Linked DNA regions of Homo sapiens. The protein of the gene in region 3 interacts with the protein of the main gene of each other region in a pairwise test. Each region holds a gene or a part of one and is shown on either strand. Other genes may lie near its edges.

Region 1 (7,060 bases), on a different chromosome or scaffold from region 3:
CTCCATTGTGCCACCTCTGGGAGGATCCGCCCGACCCAGGGACTGGCTGGAGGTTGCCTAGTCTTGCGATCAGCTCCCCCAGGCAAAACGTGATCCCCGGGATGGAGGAGGGGACTTCAAGCCACGCCCCTCCTTTCTGGCGATTTGGGTTGGTCCGCGCTGCACAGACCAAGGTGGAGTTAAAAGGTTGAAACTCCACCCCTCTTCCGCGGGGAACGGACCGGGTTTCGGATAGGTAGGGCCTCCCTGATTGGGCCCGAAGGCCAAGATGGGAGGTCTGAGATGGCGGGAAAAGGAAGAAAGGGGCTCAGGGGCGGCATTCGATTGGTAATAAAGAGGAGGAGGCGTGGCGCACCATTTCAGGAGAGGCGGGACCAAGAGCTCCCCCACGTGGGATTGGAGTGCCTGTGGTATGACGTCATGCAGAGCTGCACCGCCAATTTCTTGGTTTTGGAGAAAGCCCAAGTTGCGAAGTTGAGGGGTTGTGGAGCTTCAGGATTTCCCTCTACTCATTCGGTTTGGCAGGATTTGGTCTGGGATATATATATATGTTCTTTTGCCGACTTTCTCTAGTTTTCATACTCTAAGCACATTCCTTATCCTTCAACTTTTTCCTGCCTGCCCTTACAAAAGGAAAGGATACGATCGTATTTGGAATGAAAGTGTTTGAAAACTAACCCCGTCTATCCCGTCCCTAATCCCCTACCTTCTTTGTGTGGTGTAACGACTGACCCTGGAGAAAACTGGAGAGTCAGAGAATTACAGAGTTGAGATAATCCAGCCTTCAGGGAAAGGGGGAAAAAAAGCAGAGTGAATAGAAAGTGAGGCTTTATTTCTTTTTGGAAATTTCCAAGAGTTAGTAAGTCATCTCTATCTTAGAGGATGGATGTAAGACTAGTTGGCTCCAAAAGGGAGGGAGGCAGCGCAAATTATTACATTTTCCAATAATTTTCTGACCCTGAAGAACTTCTAGGACACTAAAATGAGGGATCAAGAGTAAGGGAAAGACAATTCCTTTTCACATTTGCCTGAGTTAGAAGGAAGGTTTGCCATACAGTCAGGTGCAGAACTAGTGCAGTCCCACAGTGTACGGTGTAGGTTTAGGAAGGAAAAAGTGCAGGGTACACCGATGACTATTGTTACTAGTTAACTGGCGTTAGAGGTGGAGTGTTGTCCTAGGATCTAGGAACTAGACTAATTGGAAGTTGATGAGGGAAGTGTTGGTCATAAGATGATTACCTTTTAATGCAGTATATATGGGGCATATTATGTAAATCTGTCAGATGCAGCAGAAGAACTGGGGTTGATCACTGGGAAGAAACTAGCCATTTCTTAGAGGAAGTGTCTTACAGGATGAGGCCTGCAGCTGATAAATTTTATCTGGTTCTGCAGGGCATAGATTTCATCAGCCTGTGTTTACCAAAGCTGCTTAAAACCTGTCCCTGCTCAGCCTCTATCACTTAAATTTTTTCACTTCCTTTTCTCTACTTCCCTAGGGCTAGCAGTATCTTGACTGCTTCATTCAGTTTGCAGAACTATTTAAGAAACAATATTCTGTCTCCTATATCCTCCATATTCCCAGAGGTAAGCAGGTAGAAAAGGGAAACAAGGAAATTGGAGGAATTATGAGTGACCTGCTCACCAACTGATAAAGCAGAACTACAGAAGGAACATGGATGAACCTTAGAGAGAAACCTCTCTATAAACTGAAATTTGCCAAGCACTGGAGTAGGCAAGGAGGTTCCTGAGAATGGGGGAATGGAGAGGGTGACCTATGGAGGTTCTTTTCCAAACTTCTCCCTTCCTCACCTCATCCAGATCATCAGAAATTATATAGGGGATAAAACTTCATCCTCAGGAAGTTCTTGTCCCAGCTGGGGCCCAGGAGCCACAGGATCAGCAGCTGCAATGCAGTTACCAACACAAGTAAACAGGGTGGGTCCCCGCCCACTGACAATTCTGCTGCCCAGGTGCCACCTGGTGGTGATAAGCAGTAAGTGGACAACAGGAAGGGATGCCCATTTGTTAGAGGAAGTGTCTTACAGGATGAGGCCTACAGGAGGAGAGAGAGTAAACTTCCTGGACTTGCAATCTGCATTTATATGTAAACCATAATCACCTCCAAGAGGCAGAGGGTGAGATACGGTACTCTGATCTCAGCTCACAAAGATGGGAAGGGCAACAAGATTTGAGGAAACTCCTTCTGTATTCTTTATTCCTCAAAAGTTACTGCCAAGCCAGTCGCGGTGGCTCATGCCTGTAATCCCAGCACTTTGGAAGGCCGAGGCAGTTGGATCACCTGAGGTCAGGAGTTCAAGACCAGCCTGGCCAACATGGCGAAACCCCGTCTCTACTAAAAATACAAAAATTAGCCGAGCATGGTGGCATGTACCTGTAATCCCAGTTACTCTACTTGGGAGGCTGAGGCAGGAGAATCACTTGAACCCGAGAGGCGGAGGCTGCAGTGGGCCGAGATCACGCCACTACACTCCAGCCTGGGCAACAGAGTGATACTCCGTCTCAAAAAAAAAAAAAAAAAATTACTGCCAAGTAGTGATCGCTTTGTTGGATGGCTATATCATTAGAACTTTCTTTTGTCGTCTGGAGTGAGACTGCCTGAATAGATTCCTGGCCCCATTCCTTACTTGCAGAACCCTGGGCAGGTTACTTTTTAAGCCTGCTTTCTCCTCTGTAAAATGGGTACAATAATATTACCCATTGTGTCAATGAGATGTTGCATGTAAAGTGCCTAGCACAGAGCCTTGGCTTATATTAAGCAGTCAACAAATGCTAGCCGGCTGGGTGCGGTGGCTCAACGCCTGTAATCCCAGCACTTTGGGAGGCCGAGGTGGGCGGATCACGAGGTCAGGATATGGAGACCGTCCTGGCTAACACGGTGAAACCCCGTCTCTACTAAAAATACAAAAAGAAAATTAGCTGGGCACCTATAGTCCCAGCTACTCTGGAGGCTGAGGCAGCAGAATGGCGTAAACCCTGGAGGCAGAGTTTGCAGTGAGCAGAGATCGTGCCACTGCACTGAAGCCTGGGCCACACAGCTAGACTCCGTCTCAAAAAAAAAAAAAAAAAAAAAGTTAGCCATTATTCTAGAAATCCCTTTTTACTTCCTGTGTAGCAAACAGGATCTTCCTCCACTGGGCAGCCCTTCAAATATTTGAAGACTTCTATTTGAAGCTTTCTCTTGCCAGCCTTTTTTTTCTAGCAACACACTGGTTTGTCAATGGCCCTCTTTAAAAATTACATTTAGAACAACACACTACTAAGTGGTTACACTTAGGCAGAACATAGAACTGCTGTATTTGTAATCTATTACCAAGGTTCTACTACCCTTATGGAGCTCCTAGAAAGATGCCTAGAACATAGCAGGCTCTTAATAAATATTTATAAATGGACATCTTGAGGGCTAAGATTCTATTTTTTTGCAGCCAACTGGAAGTCCCAGTTTGTTCTCATGTGAATTATTGCTAATATAAATCTCTAACATTGTTCCTCAAACTAGTTCAAGATCTAAGCAATTTTTTAGTGTGAGAGTGCTCCAGTGTTTTAGTCAATTCAAGTTACAGACACTTTGAATATTATTTAGCTCTTCCTGTGTTACTGTTGATAAATGGGTTTTTTACATGTTTACCCGAGTTGGGTTTTTTCTTTTTACAATAAAACATAGCCCTTGGGCTTATCACTAGAGAACAGAGATTTCTCTAACATAAATGCGCTAACCAACACTAAGTACAAGTGTTCAGTTTGATTCTACCAAATGCTACTATTTTTTTCTCATTATTTTTTAACCAGAGCCATTTGCATGGAAAAAATGCTACGATTAACTGACCCGTAATTTTCCTCTTATCTGTGATGACTTAGCAGGTGAGAGAGAGGAAAGTAGCTCCTGTAATCTGGGAACTGGCCTGACACAGCCAGGCTTCAGAGCTGTTAGGGCTGACCTGGTGCTCACAGGTAGCCAATGAGTTCTCTTGGACACAAACAATCTCACAAAACACCAGCATCAGACAAGGTCACTCAGTGACTGCGATGAAGTGAGACAAAAAACAAAATCACTACACAATTTTGTTTAAGCACAAAACAAGGTCAGTGTGCAAACCACAAAACAGCAAACATCCCCTTTCCCAGCTAGTGAGTGACTTCATCATCGACTGTGCTTAGGTTCACTTGTCTGCCCTTCTTCTAGACAAGCTACCCAATTATCCTGGATTCCCTTAACAGCACCCAATCCAAAAGAACACCCACTTTCTTGAATCTTCCCCAAAATCACTTAACCAAAGTCTAAGTTCTCTAAGTCGTTCCTAACACCCTCATGCTGAGACACACCACGTTATCCCCAATGGTGAGCCCTCCCCCTCACTGCAATGAGCATTAAACCCAACTTGCTCAATTACCAGGTGTATTCTTGGTGGTCTTCAGCTGGAGTAAATACATACAAGACATACAATGTCTAAAATTTCCCAAATCTACCTCTTTGGAGATAACCTGGCAAGGAGGAAATAAAGTCAGTCAGGATTTGACTGAGAATTCATGTTGGTATCTATGGTTACATTCTTCTCTAAATGCTCTTAAACCATCTCTTTTAATAGTCTAGAATTGCCGGGCACGGTGGTTCATGCCTGTAATCCCAGCACTTTGGGAGGCTGAGGCGGGCGGATCACGAGAGATAGAGACCATTCTGGCCAACACGATGAAACCCCGTCTCTACTAAAAATAAAAAAATTAGCCGGGCGTGGTGGCGGGCGCCTGTAGTCTCAGCTACTCGGGAGGCTGACGCAAGAGAATCGCTTGAACCCAGGAGGCGCAGGTTACAGTGAACCGAGATTGCGCCACTGCACTCCGGTCTGGTGACTGGGCAAGACTCCATCTCAAAAAAAAAAAAAAAAATTGTGTCCCAAAAAACATTAAGCTTATCAATGTGTTGTTTCTAAAATCCACAATGTTAGCCCACTTTTAGTCTTTAGGCTTTTTTTTTTAATGACTGGCCTTGACCTAGCCCACCATCTCCAATCCCAGATGTGACCTGAGTGATCAACCAGACAAGAAAGCAAGAGGTAGCAGGAGACATGATGAGGGGGAACACAATCCAGGATCACTCTCTACCCCCAAATCTACTGTCCCATTAGACTAGACACCTGAGTTGTTTTCCCTACATCAGCCGTGAGCTGAGGAGGAACTGAGGTTTGACTATTGGGGCCCCTGGCCTTACTGACTTAAGTAGATTTAAAACTTCTGGTCCTATGTGGAGACAGAGGAAAGGGATGGACCCTGAGGCTTGTGTCCCTAGAAGGACTCTCTTTTCCCAGACCTCCCAAGCCTTGAAGGCTTCAGGAACTGGCCACTGAAGGGGTGGGGTAGGAGGGACATTAACTGCCATCAACTGAGCGGCAACTGCCATCAACTCAATGGCCATCAACTCCACCTGTCCTGCTCTGTTTGAATAAGGATCTGTCAACTATGTAACATCCCATCCGCATTTCAGCAAATACACTCTCCTTACTGCCTGCCCTGCTAAATGACCCTAGGAGCCCTGGTTACTGAGGCAACCTGGGAATAGCACATACAGACAGAGACCAGAAACAGATGGGACTATTTTTAAAACTAGACTGGGTGGCTCCAAAGCTTTTACCCCATAAAGTGCCTTCCCCAAAGCCCCATTTGGTCTTGTTCTGGGTCCCTACCCTTCTTCACTGGCTTCTATCCATCTTACCAAAGCTATGTGAGGCTGGGGTCTTTATCCCATTTTGGCATGAGATCTATTTACTGCTCCCATCTTCCACACAGAATAGCTAAGCAAGTTTTCACTGCCTCCATTTGTTAAAAATAATTGTTCTTTTATTTCTTTGGAAAGTAGTGGGCCCTGCCCTATGGATTTTCAGGTCAAACTAGGGTAATGAATGCTCCCCTAGTCTTTGGGCTGGAGCACTATGGTCCCAGCTTTCCCAGGGCCCAGAAGCAATTCCTGTATTGTCCAACCCAAGCAACTAGGACCCAAATTGTCTGAAGGCTCCTATCAGGCCTTCTCTCCTGACCACCCACTTCCCAATCTTTCCTGGCTTTCCCTCTGGGCAGGGTATTTTTTTCTTCTAAAACCAGTGCTGGAACCTGTGCTGTGCAGAAGAGAGGACAAGACGAGGGATGTTCCCAAATTCCCATAAGAGGACACAGCCCCTCAGTCAGTCCTTCCTCTCTGCTGGCTTCAGTCTGCACTCCTCTGCAAGCCCCCACTGTGAGGCTTGAAGATGGACAAGAGGACCCTCATAAAAGGGAGGTGAGAGAAAACACACCATCCCAACCCCTCCTCAGGACATACTCCTTGTAGTCTCTTGTCCTAGTTCTCAAGGGAGCCCTTCAGACAGGGATGGGGAAGGCTAGGTGAGTGGGCAAGGGCCCCCTGACCCCAGCCCTGCGAGGCTATACCAGGGGAGTGTCCATTAGCCCCATCAGTGTGGCATGGCCGTGATGCGCATGCTCTGGGAAGCGATAGGGTAAGTCACCATGGGAGTGGTGGTGTGGCTCATTGTGATTCCTGCCAAGGGTTGGGCCATCGATACAGCCACAGGGGCCACAGGAGCCACAGATACAGCCACAGGAGCCATGGAGACAGGTGGAGGTGCCATTCCCTGGGCAATTGTTTGAGCCAGGGCAGCTGACAGTGGCGTGATCTCTGGGGTCAAGTGTGGGGGTGGGGGTGGTGGAGCAGCAGGAGGTGCAGCATTAGTTGGGGGAGCAGCTGGAGCTCCAGCAGGGGCCACCAGTTCTTGCTGGGACACTGGACGAGGCTGTAGAGCCTGGCTGCTGAGAGTAGTGTGAGTCTGGGCAATGCCATGGTTAAAAGTGGCAACAGTGCCCACAGTGGGGGCCAGAGTCTGCTCAGTCGCTGGTGCAGTGGAGCTCAGGGTTATGACCTTGGCCTGATTGCGGAACTGAGCATTTTGTTCCAGTAGTACCTCATTGGTGGCCAGCAGGTTGCTGACCTGCTTCTTTAACTCCTCTACCCGCTTCCTGAGCATGGCATTCTCCTCCTCTAGCAGTCTGCACTCCA
Region 2 (7,395 bases), on a different chromosome or scaffold from region 3:
TGGCTTGATCTTGGCTCACTGCACCCTCCGCCTCCGGGGTTCAAGCAATTCTCCAGTCTCAGCCTCCCAAGTAGCCACAATTACAGGCATGGGCCACCATGCCCGGCTAATTTTGTATTTTTAGTAGAGACGGGGTTTCTTCATGTTGGTTAGGCTGGTCTTGAACTCCTGACCTCAGGCGATCCGCCTGCCTCAGCCTCCCAAAATGCTGGGATTACAGGCGTGAGCCACCATGCCCGGCCTAAACTGGATTTTTAAGTTCCTGTGTTGATAATATCAAAACTGTATTCAATGTACAATAATAACTATTTTCAAAGCTGACTTTTACATATGGAATCCATCCATTTACTTAAGTAGAAACAATAAAATTCGGTATTTCAGGCTTATTTCCTTATCAATCAATGTTGGTAAGGAAATATAAAAATATCAATGGTTGTAAAACTGCTCTAAAAAATAACGTCTCTCAATCGTTCAGCTATTAAGTGTTTGCACTGTTCAGTTTTATTTTAAGAAGTCTATCTAAAAGGAACAGGACATTTGAGAGCTTTTCAGTAAGAACATCCACTTAAACAATAAACCTAGCTCAATCTTCTGGCCCAATACTTAATTTGCAGGGAATACAACTTGGGAGAAAAAGGATCAGAAATATATGTCTATGTTGGTAAAGATTCAGTCAGGATTCCTTATATATGTTAATAATTCAAAACTCTTCCCTACTTTTCATGAAATGGTCATAACCCTAAGCAAGATTTTGTATTTTGATTAGGCAGTGACTCACCTGAGTAGGAAACTGGAATACAGCCTATTAACTATGGATTCCAGAGTTTAAAATTCAGGAAGAAGAAGTAAATTTCATTAACTTTCAGGGACAATGCAAAAACAAAAAGACTAAAAATAAAAATGTCCTATGTTTACGCATTCAATAAAAATTTATTCATATACTGTCACCAAAATATGTACACAAAACATCACCGTAATTACAACTTCGCAATCACCAAAATGATTCCATATCCATCACCAATTCACTGGGAAAGTAAGTGTTATATTCATCTATTTACAGATTCGCCAAAGTTGTGTGAATACTGACAATGCTTTAAGTGTTTACTCATTCAGGATCAAAACCATTTTAATATATTTGTTAAAGCTGTGTTGGGATCAATACATAGTTCTTTAAACATCAGTTTTAATACTTAGCATTTATTGGCCAAAACATATTGTGTGCAATTTGCCTTCCTTTGGGAAAAAAATTACTTTAGATTGAAAGACTTTAAGACTACTATGACTTAGGAAGGGAAAGTTTATCCAAAAAAAGAATCAAGACTAGGAAAAAAAGGCCGGGAGCGGTGGCTCATGCCTGTAATCCCAGCACTTTGGGAGGCCGACGCGGGCGGATCACGAGGTCAGGAGATCGAGACCATCCTGGCTAACACTGTGAAACCCCGTTTCTACTAAAAATACAAAAAATTAGCCAGGCGTGGTGGCGGGCGCCTGTAGTCCCAGCTACTCAGGAGGCTGAGGCAGGAGAATGGCGTGAACCCAGGAGGCGGAGCTTGCAGTGAGCTGAGAGCGGACCACTGCACTCCAGCCTGGGCGACAGAGCGAGACCCCGTCTCAAAAAAAAAAAAAAAAAGACTAGGAAAAAAACGTGGCGCTCAAAGCAAAAAACAAAAAAACAACAAATAAAAAACAGCGTGGTTTATTCATGTAATCTGATGCAATGTTCACAGCGGACCTCTCACTGTTCAATCTAGATCTTTGTTTCAAGGGAAAGGTACACCCTCATCTGCCCGGCAAATTAAGTAGAAAGGAAACTGAGTCACGTACGTAAGCCACAGTGTTAAAGGAGCTCTTTCAATTTCAGTGACACTTTGAGACTGGCCCTGTAAGTCCCAATTTCTTAAAATGTGATTACAAACTCACCGCTGCTTCACTGAGCAGCATGCAGGAAACCCCTAAGTGATTTCAAACTCAGGTATCTGATATACAAATAAAACGCAACAGGATCAAGAAACATGCTGAGGCCAGGCGCGGCGGCTCACGCCTGTAATCCCAGCACTTTGGGAGGCCGAGGTGGGTGGAAGGTCAGGAGTTCGAGACCAGCCTGACCAACATGGTAAAACCCCATCTCTACTAAAAATACAAAAATTAGCAGGCGTGGTGGCGCATGCCTGTAATCCCAGCTACTCGGGAGGCTGAGGCAAGAGAATCGCTTGAACCCAGGAGGCAGAGGCTGCAGTGAGCCGAGATCATGCCCCTGCATTCCAGCCTGGGTAACAGCAAGACTCCGTCTCAAAAAAAAAAAGTATGTTTAATAATGTGTTTATTCCCCAGATTCAACAGGCTCTGGAAACCTTACCAGATGGCCCTAAAAAGGCAAGACTCAGGCAGAAGGGAAAATGCGCCTTCCGAGAGCGGTCGCGGCTCTGCCCTTCCCACTCCGGAGACTGCCCGCGCCCGGGACCGAATGACTCAGCTGCGAGGCCCTCCGGCCCAGGTTTTGGGGGAAAACGGGCTGCGTCCGCTTTCGTCTAAACTGCGCTCGTAAAGTGGGGCAGAGGCGCTGGGGGCACTCAAATCCGAGGTCCTTACTTCTGGATTCCTTTTCCTTTTCCGAGTTAAACCGCTCCCCTGAGCCGCACGGCTCTCTCAGGGAGGATTTTCCAACTCGTCCCAAGTTCGCGAGGAGGCAGGCGGGTCCCGGGGCAGCTGAGCGCACGAAGCGGGCGTGGGGCGGCGAGCCGGCGGCCTCGGGGGCGCCGAGCGAGGGGCCGCGTCAGGTGAACTCGCGGCTGCCCCGCCAGTCCTTGGCCCGGCCCCGGGGTCCCGGCCCGCCGCCCACGGCTCCGCTCGGCCTCTGCTGCTCCACCGCACCCGGCTCCGCTCCGCCTCCTGCCTCCACCTCCACCTCCTGCGCCGCGTCGCCCGCTGCTGGGTCTCGGGGCCGGAGCCGACGCACCACTTACCCGCCGCAAAGGGATTTACGTAGCGGACCTCGTCACTGATTACGGACGCGAGGAGGTGGAGACGGCGAGCCCGACCGCCGCTCAGCAGCGGCGCCGCCGCCCAGCAACCCGGAGCCGGCAGCGGCCCCACGTAGTCCTCACGTCAGCTGTGATGCGGTAGCCGCGGCCTCCCTGCCGACCCCGGACCAAAAGTAGCGCTGCAGCCGACCGAACCGCGTCCTCCCGCCCCGTCCTCCCCTCCCCCACGCCGGGACGGCCTCCCGGGGGAGGCCCCGAGGAAAAAAATCCAGGCTCGAACTCCGCCCCCTGCCGGCCGCCAGCAGGAGTGAAGCGCCACAATCCAACAATGAAATGGAACCGGGGAGGGGCGGCGGGAAGGTGCGGGTCAGGGGGCGGGGCCTAGGGATAGGGAGAAGGAAGGTCAGGGGGCGGGGCCAAGAGGAGGAACTAGCCTGGAGGTGGGGCGGAAGGTAGGGGCGGGGGCAAGGCTGGAAACCGGAAGCTGCCCGTGCCGCGCCGCGCGTGCGCCAGAAATCCAATGACTTGTCAGCCAGAGTAACGGCTGTTGTCAGGTCTTCAGGGTCTCGAGGTCGGTTTCTTCCTAACGCCGCCAACCCCAAGCTAAGGTCCGCGAGCGTCTCACCTCTGTCCAGGCTGGGCTGCAGTGGCGTGGTCTCGGCTCTCTGCAACCTCTATCTCCCCAGGCTCAAGCGATCCTCCGGCCTCAGCCTCCTGAGTAGCTGGGACTGCAGGCGTGCTTCTTCTGACTTCTAAAAGCTATCTACATACCTTGACTAGTGGCCCTTTTCCTCCATATTCACAGCCAGTCACAGCTGGTTGAGTCCTTCTCCAAAAGAAGCTTGAGCTCCTGAGACAATTCACCTGCTTCTTAGGGTCATTTATTGCAGTTTATCCCAGTATTTGACTGGAAATGGTCCGCATGCTGGGCCCGCTGGCTCGGGCCTGTAATCCCAACACTTCGGGAGGCCAAGGTGGGAGGATCGCTTGAGCCCAGGAGACCAGCCTAGGGAACACAGTGAGACTTCATCTCTTTTTTTTTTTTTAGATTAGAAAGGTCGGCCGGGGGCTCACGCCTGTAATCCCAGCATTTTGGGAGGCAGACATGGGCAGATCACCTGAGGTCAGGAGCAGCCTGGCCAACATGGTGAAACCCCATCTCTACTAAAAATACAAAAATTAGCTAGGAGTGGTGGCAGACGCCTGTAGTCCCAGCTAGTTGGGAGGCTGAGGCAGGAGAATCGCTTGAACCTGGGAGGTCAAGGCTGCAGTGAGCTGAGATCGTTCCACTGCACTCCAGTCTGGGTGACAGAGCGAGGCTCCATCTCAAAAATAAAAAAAGTAATGGGATATCAGGAATAAAGAATAGCAGCATGGTTATAGAGTACAGTAGGTCCTCACTTAACGATAGGTTCTTAGAAATCATGGCTTTAAGCCAAACAACTTACAGCAGGTCCACAAAAAAATTTTCATTCAGTGTTGTTTTCATTTCGTTATAATATTGATGATAACAAAAATCGGTTTCATTGTACGTTGTTTCACTGAAAACCAGTTTCTAAGAAGCTATTGACAATGTTAAGTGAGGATTTATTATTTCATATCAGTTACTGTAGTGTCAGAGTGTTTTCATAATTTTCACTGAGCAGGACTTAATCTAAATCCAATCTGAACCTTTGTTCAAATCTAATTTTCGTAGGTCAAAGGGAATGTATCCACAACAATTGTCTCTGTAACAGGAGTTCATATGAATCAAAAAGAATCAAAGGAATGGCAATTTCTTATTTGCAAAGTATTTGCTCTACGGTTTCCTTTCTTGCCAGTATTTTACTCCCATATGTATGTAGTCTTAATTATAAAGTTCAGAAAGCACAAACCATATTTTTTTGTTCATCTGTTTTTTTACAAAGATCAATACTGGAGGTGAGATACACATACTTACAAGCCCATCAGTTCATGGCCTCTGCTATACCCTTGCTGTAAGATGTAATAGACTTAAAAACCATGCAGTTGGATCTGGGTTTAAATGTATGCTTGTTAGCTGTGGGCAAGTGTCATATCCTCTTAGGGGAAGCATAAGGTTTTTAAATGGGAAGAAAAATAGTACCTACCTGTTAGGATTATTGTAGATTTTAAAAAATATCTGCCATAAGATAAATACTTAAAAACCTACTCATGTTTACGTTAGTCCAGTGTCTAGCTTTTGGGGCTCCTCACCTAGGTGATAGTTAATTCTCTGTTGGGGAGGGACAACTAGGTCACCTACTTTTCTGAGAAAATACGGGCTGTCAGTCACACCCTTATATTCCCTCCTCACTTCAAAATATCTTAAACTTTCCCTCCCTTTCTGGGTCGGGAGGAGCACCTCTTTTTCCTCTCCGAATCCAACTGTAAGTTAGATGTCATTTCTTTCCCATATCAGATCTTGCTCAATTACCAAGAGTCATACCTACAGCCTTTTTCGTCCTCTTGGCTCCTTTCCCTACAAATGTGTTAGTATCGTGCCTCTTGAAAACTGTTGGCACTGCTAGCCCTATAAGGAAGGCCACAGAGTTGCCAATTCCGGGTTGCACATTTACATTTCATTTTTTGCCCATTTGCTTACTGTTCCATCCCTTGCCATCCCCTCACCTTCAGATTTCTCAAGAGAAGAAGGCAAGGCAGGGGTTGTATTCACTTCTTCACCACCCATTTGTTTGTTATTTCCTGCCAAATTTTTGCCCTCTTCCGTCTCTTTTTTTTTTAATTTAATTTTTATTTTTATATGTAGACATGGAGTCTCTTGTCCAGGCTAGTCTGGAACTCCTGGGCTTAAGCAATCCTTCCACCTTAGCCTCTGAAAGTGCTGGGATTATAGGCATGAGCCATTGCACTTGTCTGTCGCCTTTCTGATGACTAAATCTGACCACTTTTTCTCATTTTTCATTCTACTTGACCTATTTTCCTCATCAGATACTACCAATGACTACTGCCTTATTTTTTAAATGTATTTACTTAGAGGCAGAGTCTCGCTCTGTCACCCAGGTTAGAGTACAGTGGTGCAATCATAGCTCATTCAGCTTCAAGTACCTAGTCTAAAGCGATCCTCCCACCTCGGCTTCCCAAAGTGTTGGGATTACAGGCATAAGCCTGCCACTTTCTTAACATAGTCTCCCTCCTGAATTTTCATGATACTTGGCTCTCATGGTTTCACTCATCTTTGTCTCCCTAATGTAGACAGTTACTAATTTTCTGTCCTTGGACATCATCTTCTATACTGTCCTCAAACAGTATTTTCTTTAGTTATCTAATCATACCCAATTTTTTTGAAAGATAATTCTAAAATTTATACCCAAAGCTTCCAACTTCATTCATTAGCACCAGGTCACATTTCCAAACACCTGACAGTTCTCACTTACATGGCCCATGAGCATTTCCAACTCATAGGTTCAAAACTACATGTCTTGTCTTCTTCCCCTTTCATACCTGAATCTTGATTTTTTATTGTTGTTTTAGCAATGTTAATGGCACTTTTCAGCTCCTTGTCATCCTGCCTCTACACCTTGAAACGATTTTGGTCATTCTTCTACTCATGTCATTCAGGAGCCACATAGAAAATATTTTGAAGTGCCTGCTATGTTCCAGGCCCTATGCTAAATGCTAAGTCCTGTTGCTTTTGCCTGTAGAAACTTGCATCCATCCCTTTTTTTTTTATTCCCACTATTACCCATCTGGTACTTCCATTATAGTTCATCCTAAGTATTTCTGTCTGATTCATTTTCCTTAGATACAGCTCTGGTGATGTGATTTCTCTTAGAAAATCTACAGTGACTAGGAGGGACTGAAACTTAAGGAACAGAAGTGAAAGGAGACTGTGAATTATCTTTGGTGGCCTCTTGAATTGTGTACTGCAAGAATGCTTTATATATTTTAAAAATAAATGACATTTTAATTGAAGCAGAAACACCAGTGAGATGTTATTAGCTGACAGAGTGTAACTAAGTTTGGCATGAAGTCCTTTGTTTTGTTTTGTTTTGTTTTTTGTTATGTTTTGCTTGTTTGTAGATCGGATCTCACTCTGTCACCCTGGCTGGAGTGCAGTGGTGCCGTCACAGCTCACTGCAGTCTTGACCTCCCAGGCTCAAGCAATCCTCCCACCTCAGCCTCCTGAGTAGCTAGGACTACAGGTGTGCACCACCATGCCTGGCTAATTTTTTTAATTTTTTTATATAGATGGGTTCTCTAAAATGGGGATATTGGCCAGGCACAGTGGCCCACGCCTATAATTCTAGCACATTGGGAGGCTGAGGTGAGCAGATCACTTGAGGTGAGGAGTTTGAGAACAAACAGCCTGGCTAATATGGCAAAACCCCATCTCTACTAAAAATACAAAAATAAGCTGGGCATGGTGGCGCATGCCTGTAATCCCAGCTACTTA
Region 3 (7,824 bases):
GCCAGAGACGCCCACCAAGGACACTGCCCAGCACCGACTCGGACGTGGACCCATGGCTCCCCTCTAGGCCCCCTTGGCACTGTGGCCAGCTATGCATGAGGTGGGCTAGGACCCCCAGCATACACTGGAACTGTGGTCTTCAATCCGGGCTCCCCAGGACCACCATCTGCAGCACAAACACGTGTCAAGGATGCAAATTCCTGGGCCCCAGCCAGACCTAAAGAATCGGAAATCCGGGAGGGCAGCCCAGGTACCTTCATGTTTATTAATCAACCAGGAGATTCTGACATTTGAGAGTCCTTCCTGGGGCGCTTCTCTTGACCCCATACACAGAATCCCCCAGAACAAAGAGCAGATGGCTCCACTCCCCATCAGAAGGAAGCCCATCTGGGGGCGGGAGAACAAGCTGGAAGCTTTCTCTGCTTGTCCTGTTGGGAGACTTTTCATTCTGTGAACCTACTAAAGGCCAACACATGGGGGGAACACAGCTGTGAGCTCCACACACAAGGGCCTGCACTAGGGAGCTGACGTCAGCGCGGGAGGCAGACAGGAGGCCAATGAACCCACCGCCACCTCCAACGGCCCACCCCTAATAAGGGCTTCGACAGAGGAAAAGTACCCAGGCCAACTCTCTCTCTGCCCAAAACTGTTCCACGTCTCCAAAGGCCTTTAAAAATAGCCCAGCCCAGCACCACAAGGGCCAGTTCCTAACAAAGCTTTGTTGACTCAACTTCTCTTAAAGTTGACAGATCTGCCCGGAGGAGGGGGCCGGACAGGACTATCACCCCAGGCCCTTCCCATTTAGAATCCACCATCATGGGCTTCTAGCAAAAGCCAGAAAAAGACACCCAGCAGAGCTTTTTTTTTTTTTTTTTGGAGACAGAGTTTCCCTCTTGGAGCAATCTCACCTCACCGCAACCTCCGCCTCCCAGGTTCAAGCGATTCTCCTGCCTCAGCCTCCCGAGTAGCTGGGATTACAGGCATGTGCCACCATGCCCAGCTAATTTTGTATTTTTAGTAGAGATGGGGGTTTCTCCACGTTGGTCAGGCTGGTCCACCCGCCTCGGCCTCCCAAAGTGCTGGGATTACAGGCGTGAGCCACTGTGCCTGGCCCAGAAGAGCTCTTGGCACGAGCTCTGAAGTCTCTCACTAGCCTTGGAGCAGGACAGACCGGAGTTCAAGTCCTGGCACTGCCTGGTCACTAGCTGTGGGATCATGGGAATGCCACTTTGCCCCTCTGAGCCTTAGTTTCCCCATCTGTAAATGGAGATCGTAGCAGCACCCAGCCTGGTAGAGCAGTTGTGGCAGAGTCGAGGTGCTAATGATGCCAAGAGCTTGGCACGTGACATGCTCGATGAGCAGGAAACCTGGCTTCACTCCCCTGTCCCACCATGATGGAGGCATCCCGTGCAGCCCATGCCCACCACTCCTGATGGAGCCCACGGTGTCCTCACCCTCCCCCGGCACAGGGACCCAGGAAGTCCACCTGCTGGCGGCTGTGGGCCACATCTGGACTTAGCTTGAAGGAGTCCCCAGCGAATCTCACAAAACAGCAGCCAGACTGGAATGGGCCACCCACCTGCCCACCTTGGAGAGAGGGTGAGAACAGCCCCTGTGCCCAGGGGCTTCACCCCTTCCAGGTAGCAGCTCTTGGGATGTGAGCTCCATGCTGCAGGATTCCACAGGAGAAGGGCCAGCACCTCGCAGCAGACTAGCACCCGCTCAGGAAAGCCCCCTTTGTTCCAAGCATGAGGGGTGAGGGGCATGGAGCTGAAGCGTGGGCTTGGACAGACCTGCAGACGTGCCCAGAAGGCCGATGGAGTGGGGGGAAGCGGGGAGCAGAGGTTGTGCAATGCACCACCAGGAGCTGCCTCCCCAGCCTCCATCAACACATGGGGCTGGCGGTCAAGCTGCTGCCTCCAGGGGTGGTGCAGAGGGCCTGGGCCCACGCAGCTGCCCGGGGATGGGTTCTGAATTCCAACCCAAGCCCAGAACCACTGTCCCCTTCCAAGTCAAACACCCAGGCAGAGGTCCTTCCAGACCCCGATGCTGAAGCCTTCCCTCTGGCAATCCCCTGGGTGGTCTGGACCCATTACCATTAACCCCTGGTATGCCAGGGCACCTCCGGAGAGGCTGCAGGGAAGGGGGAAGCCTGGTATGGAGAAACTAGGACTGCAAGGGGACTGCAGAGTTGTGAAGTTAGGCAAGTGGAGGGAGACACACTGAGGCTGATCTGGAGACGCCCAGAAAGGACAGGCCATCCTCCTCCGGGCAGCCCGCGACAGCTAATGATCACACGCGGCCCAGATGACCCGGGCTGTAGAAACCCACTTCCCGGTGTGGCAGACAGAGATGGGGCCAGGGAGAATCCAGCCTGTAAGTGCTGCAACCCACAGGGTGCCGGGGACCCTTCACCGCCGTCACCGCACGACGAGCGCTGTGCCAAGTCTCGCCACCCCCCCCCCCACACGAACGGGGCCAGGGAGGGGGCGACAGGCCAATCTCGCAGCAGCGGCGGCGGCGGCATCGTGATGCATGAATCACCAGCCCCGCGCGCTCGTGCCAGTCGGCTCCGCGCAGCCGGGCGCCCCCTCCCGGGACCACCGCCCCACCCTGGCAACAGCCCCTGCCCGTTGGGACAGCTCTGCGGAGAGGGGGCCGCCAGGGGGCTGGGGCTGCCCCTCCGGACCTAGGGGTGGCGCCGCGCACGCCGACCGGCGCGCACTCCCCGGGCTGGGGGTGCCAGAACAATGGGGCCGGGCGGGGGGCAGGGGCGCGGCCCGGGAACCTCCGAGGGGTCCACATTGGAGGCCGGGCGGGGAGGACGGAGCGGAGGCGGCAGCGCGGAGCGGGTAGCGCGCGGGTCCGGGGGGCGGGGGCGGGGGCGGTGGGTGTGGGGGTGACCGCGGGGCGCGGGCTGGGGGCTGGGAGCACTCACAGTAGGTCTTCCTGGTCAGCTCCTCCACAACTTCGGGCTTCAACTTGCTGTTGGATTTCCCCATCCTCGGCGGCCGCGGCCCCCGCCCCCCCGGGCCGGACCCGGTTGGGGCGCCCAGCAGGAGCGGCTGGGCCGGGCGGGCCGGGCCGGGGCCGCGCCTTTGTCTGCGGCGCCCGCGCTGCGCTGCGCGGCTGTCGGCGCCGGGGCGCCCGGGGCGTGGGGCGGCCGCTGGGCAGGCCCGGGCGGTCCGGGCGCCGCGGCGCGGGGCTGCCTGGGCTGGGCGCCGGCGCCGGCGCGGTGTGGCCGCGGTCGTCCCTGGTTACTGGGCTCCGCGGCACATGCTCGCTGCTGCCTCCCGCCTGCCGCCGCCCCTGCGCTCCCCGCCTCCCGCCTCCCCCCTCCCGCCCGCACCCGCGCGCCAGGGGTGGACCCGGAGCCGCCACTCAGCGCCCGGCGCCACCTCCCGCCCCGCACCCGCCTGGCCGCGGCCTCCGCCAGCTGGACCCCGGCCTCGCCAGCCAGCCGGAGGGGCGTCCCCTCGGCTCAACGCGGCCCCAGGGCGGGGCAGCCACCCCCGCCACCCCCTCCCCGAATCCAGCCCTGGCGCTCCGGCCCCCGCCGCGGCGGGGAGGGCCCGGAAGATCGGATGTGAATGAGGCCAGGTCCCGGCCCGGAGACATTCATTCATTCGACACGGATTCATGGGGTGCCGGGGACACGGCGGCCCACGGGACAGGAGTGCCCCAGCCCTCGCAGGGCGGGCAGGGGGCTGTGCGGGATGCGGCAGGTAGCGGTGGGAGCACCTACTCTCGGCCTGGGGGCAGGAGACCTCCAAACCCAGGGTCAGGAAGGGAGGTGGATGGAGAAGCGTTCTGGCCCAGGCAACCTGGAGAGGCGGGGAGGCCTGCATGCCCGAGGGAGAGTTCCCCGGCTTGCGGGCTTGCGCACGGCTGCAGGCACAGGGGACCTGGGAGAAGGGCAGGGCCCACGGGGCAGGCCAGGAGAGGCCCCTCGCCGAGGAGCTGGGCCCCTGCCCACCAGCGCCCATGAAAGGACTTCAGCAGAGAGTGATGGGTCAGAGCTGCTGGAGTGACAGGTCAGAGCTGCTCAGAGCTGTTTCTCTGAGCCGAGGCTGGGGTGACAGGCTCCACCTGAATGGACAGAGGCCAGTGGATTCGCGTAGGGGGGTGTGGTTCAGGTGGTAGGTCCAGCATGGCCTTCCCGGTCCACCTCATCCAACATATCATCATATCTTGAGAACTCTCCTATCCTTTTCGGCTTTAGTTTCTCTCCTTCACATCCATCACAAACGTCACCTATGTTTTCTGCATCCTGTTTGTCTCTTCCATGGGAGAACACCCTCCCAGAGGGCAGAGGCATCTCCATAACCCAGAAGGCCGCCTGAGGTGTTACCCAGCAAATCTCTGTGAATGAGCGAAGGACGGAGGAAAGAATGACACCCGGTGCTGGGGCCCTGGGGTAGGGGAGAGAGCGGGGAGGATGAGGCAGCCCTCCCCGGGGCTAGCAGGGATGAGGCAGGAGTGGGGTCTCTTTCTCCCTTCTTTCCACAGTGTTCTAACCTCGGAGGGTCCAGAAAGCTCAGAGGAACCCTGAGCAGGGCCGAGTGCCTTCCAGCTCCCAAATATCTCTCCTGCCTCTAAGCATACTCCATCCACTCCTGCTTTCCCCTGAAGCCCCTGCCCAGGCTGAGCCCCAGGCCCCAGGAAGTCTTCAGATGGGGATGGACTTGCTGGCTTGGGGAGCTCATTCTGCAGAGGAGGTGGGCCCAGTTGGAGGGATCTGGTGTAGACCTGGGAGCAGAATGTCCCAACCTTGAGGACCAACTCAGAGTGGACAGCAGTGAGGGGCCCACAGTGGGGGGCTAACAGTTGACCAGACTGTGCTGAGCATCCTGCCTGGGAGGAGGGAGAGCCAGCACGGGAACCAGGGCCTGGCTGGATGACAGCAGTAGTAGTTAAAGCCCTTTAGAAACCCAGGTGCTCAGGCTGGGTGCAGTGGCTCATGCTGGTAATCCCAGCACTTTGAGAGGCTGAGGTGGAAGGATTACTTGAGCTTAGGAGTTCAAGACCAGCCTGACAGGGGAGACCTCATCTCTACAAAAATTTTTAAAAGTTAGCTGGGCTTGGTGACACATGCCTAACTCCCCGTTACTCGGGTGGCTGAAGTGGAAGGATCACTTGAACCCAGCAGGGCGAGGCTGCAGTGAGCCGTCATTGTGCCACTGCATTCCAGCCTGGGTGACAGAGAAAGACCCTGACTCTCTCTCTCTCTCTCTCTCTCACACACACACACACACACAAACACACACACATGAAAAGAGAAGAGAAAAAAAGAAAGAGAAAGGAAGGAAGGAAGGAGGGAAGGAAGGGAGGGAGGGAGGGAAGGCAGGCCAGGCATGGTGGCTCATGCCTATAATCACAGCACTTTGGGAGGACAAGGCAGGTGGATGGCTCGAGCTCAGGAGTTCAAGACCAGCCTGGGCAACATGGTGAAACCCCATTCCTACAAAAAATACAAAAAAAAATTAACTGGGCATGGTGGCACATGCCTGTAGTCTCAGCTACTCGGGAGGCTGAGGCAGGAGGATTGTTTGAGCCTAGGAGGTAGAGGCTGAAGTAAGCCCTGTTGGCACCACTGTACTCCAGCCTAGGTGATGAGACCCTGTCTCAACACACACACACACACACTCACACACTCACATGCATTCACACACACACACAAGAAACCCAGGTACTCATCCTGTGAGTATTTCTTGCTCACTGCCCCTGTGCCAGGTGCCGTGCTGGGCACTGAGACCAACATGGGAGCTCACGGATCTGACCCGACCTGCTGCACAGCGATCACAAAATCACACTGGCAACAAACACCATGCAAGGAATGGAGAGGGTGGGGGAACATACATGGGAACACCTGCCAAGGAACTCAGGGACTTCACAGATTCATCCCATCATTCGGGACATGTTTACTAAGCACCTACTATGTGCCCTGGGGACATAGACCAGATCCCTGCCATCAGGGACCTTACACTTTCGTGAGGGGAGAGTGCTATAAACAATAAACAACATGCATAAGTGCAGCATAGAAACCAGAAACACGGGGGCGCAGTGGCTCATGCCTGTAATCCCAGCACTTTGGGAGGCCAAGGCGGGCGGATCACGAGGTCAGGAGTTCAAGACCAGCCTGGCCAACATAATGAAACCCCGTCTCTACTAAAAATACAAAAATTAGCCGGGCATGGTGGTGCACGCCTGTAGTCCCAGCTACTTGGGAGGCTGAGACAGGAGAATCACTTGAACCTGGGAGGCAGAGGTTGTGGTGAGCTGAGATCGCACCACTGCATTCCAGCCTGAGTGACAGAGCAAGACTTTGTCTGAAAGAAAGAAAGAAAGAAGGAAAGAAGGAAGGAAGGAAGGAAGGAAGGAAGGAAGGAAGGAAGGAAGGAAGGAAAAGAAAAGAAAAAAGAAACCATAAATACGCTGCATGAGTAGAATGTATCTCACAGGTGAAAGAAGAAAAATGAGGCGGGAAGGAAAATGGGAAGGGCTGAGGGCCGGAGGTGTGTGGTGTTGGCTAGAGAAGGAGCCTCACTGAGAGCAGAGGGGGAGCATCGCCCAGGCCCCGTGGCAGAGCCCAGGTGGAGCCCAGCTGGCCCACGTACAGCCTTGTGTGTGGCCTTGCAGGGGTACAGTAAGGTGGGCTTTAAAGGGCGAGGTGCAGAGTGGGGAGGCAAGGTCAGACTCCCGACTCAAGGGATCTGATGTGCTTAGCCGGCCCCTTCAGCTGCTGCTGCAGGGAGAACTGACTCCAGGCACAGATGGGTAAGAATGGGGAACTGCCAGAGGTCACTGTATCATCAGCCAGGAGGTGGTGGTGGCCACGTGTAGTGTGGCCTTGGAGGACACAGAACTGGCTAGACTCGGTGACATTTTGAGGGTAGTGAGAGCAGGATTCCCTCACTGCTGTCTCCTCTGAGTTGGTCTTCAAGGTTGGGAGACATTCTGCTCCCAAGTCTACACCAGATCCCTCCAGCTGAGGCCCATCCTACCTCCTCTGCAGAATGAGCTCCTCCAGGCCAGCAAGTCCATCCCCATCTGAAGACTTCCTGGGGCCCGGGGGTCAGCCTGGGCAGGGGCTTCAGGGGAAAGCAGGAGTGGATGGAGTATGCTTAGAGGCAGGAGAGACATTTGGGGCTGGAAGGCAGGAGAGACATTTGGGGGCTGGAAGGCAGGAGAGACATTTGGGGGCTGGAAGGTATGAGACGGAGAGAGGGGACTCAAGGACAAGGCCGGGCTTTCTGAGCTGAGCTTATGGAAGAGTGGGGTTTCTATTTGCTAAGATGGGGAGTGGACAGGTTTGGACAGGAAGAGCTGGAATCTTACTGCAGACAGGTGAGGTGTGAAATGCTTACCAGATGTCCAAGTGGTGACGGGAGAAAGCAGGTGGCACAGGCGTCTGGAGTTCAGGGACAGGTCCAGGCTGCAGGTATGCACTGGGAGCCATCCTGGCAGACATGCCCTTTAAAGTCTTGAGACAGGATGAGGTCACCGAGGGAGGGAGTGTAGGCTGAGAAGGTCAGGCCAGGGAGACAGCAGGGGTGCTGACGGGGAGGTAGGAAGACCACCAGGAGGCAGTGCTGGAAGCCAGGGAAGAATGTGTTTTAGGAAGGAGGGAGAAGCATGGGAACTGCTTGGGGAAGGGTGGGGGGAGTGTTTTGGACCCCCGTGATGTGGGGACGGCATGTGGGAAAGTGCTGGGCCTTGGGACCAGCCATCCCTCTTCCTGACCTGGTTTTTAGCTGAAAAGGTCCCTGCCCACATCAGCTTAAAATGCTGAGCCTGAGCCACCACATGAAGGACTCAGATCTG

What was found. Proteins that work in one complex are often made in the same cells at the same time.
Region 1: the proteins of NCS1 (region 3) and ZC3H10 interact in binary tests that used the Homo sapiens proteins (3 or more experiments, as listed by UniProt).
Region 2: the proteins of NCS1 (region 3) and CREM interact in binary tests that used the Homo sapiens proteins (3 or more experiments, as listed by UniProt).

Annotation. Positions count from the first base shown.
Region 1 is NC_000012.12:56,121,266-56,128,325, reverse strand, and holds the end of ZC3H10 (zinc finger CCCH domain-containing protein 10), read right to left. Parts: coding exon 6,459-7,060; 3' UTR 812-6,458; downstream 1-811. Other genes in the region: ESYT1 (extended synaptotagmin-1), read right to left, coding at 1-6. UniProt on the Homo sapiens protein: Specific regulator of miRNA biogenesis. Binds, via the C3H1-type zinc finger domains, to the binding motif 5'-GCAGCGC-3' on microRNA pri-MIR143 and negatively regulates the processing to mature microRNA.
Region 2 is NC_000010.11:35,122,762-35,130,156, reverse strand, and holds the start of CREM (cAMP-responsive element modulator), read right to left. Parts: upstream 3,312-7,395; 5' UTR 2,964-3,311; intron 2,931-2,963; exon of another isoform or gene 2,590-2,930; intron 1-2,589.
Region 3 is NC_000009.12:130,167,842-130,175,665, reverse strand, and holds the start of NCS1 (neuronal calcium sensor 1), read right to left. Parts: upstream 3,263-7,824; 5' UTR 3,003-3,262; coding exon 2,939-3,002; intron 1-2,938. UniProt on the Homo sapiens protein: Neuronal calcium sensor, regulator of G protein-coupled receptor phosphorylation in a calcium dependent manner. Directly regulates GRK1 (RHOK), but not GRK2 to GRK5. Can substitute for calmodulin. Stimulates PI4KB kinase activity.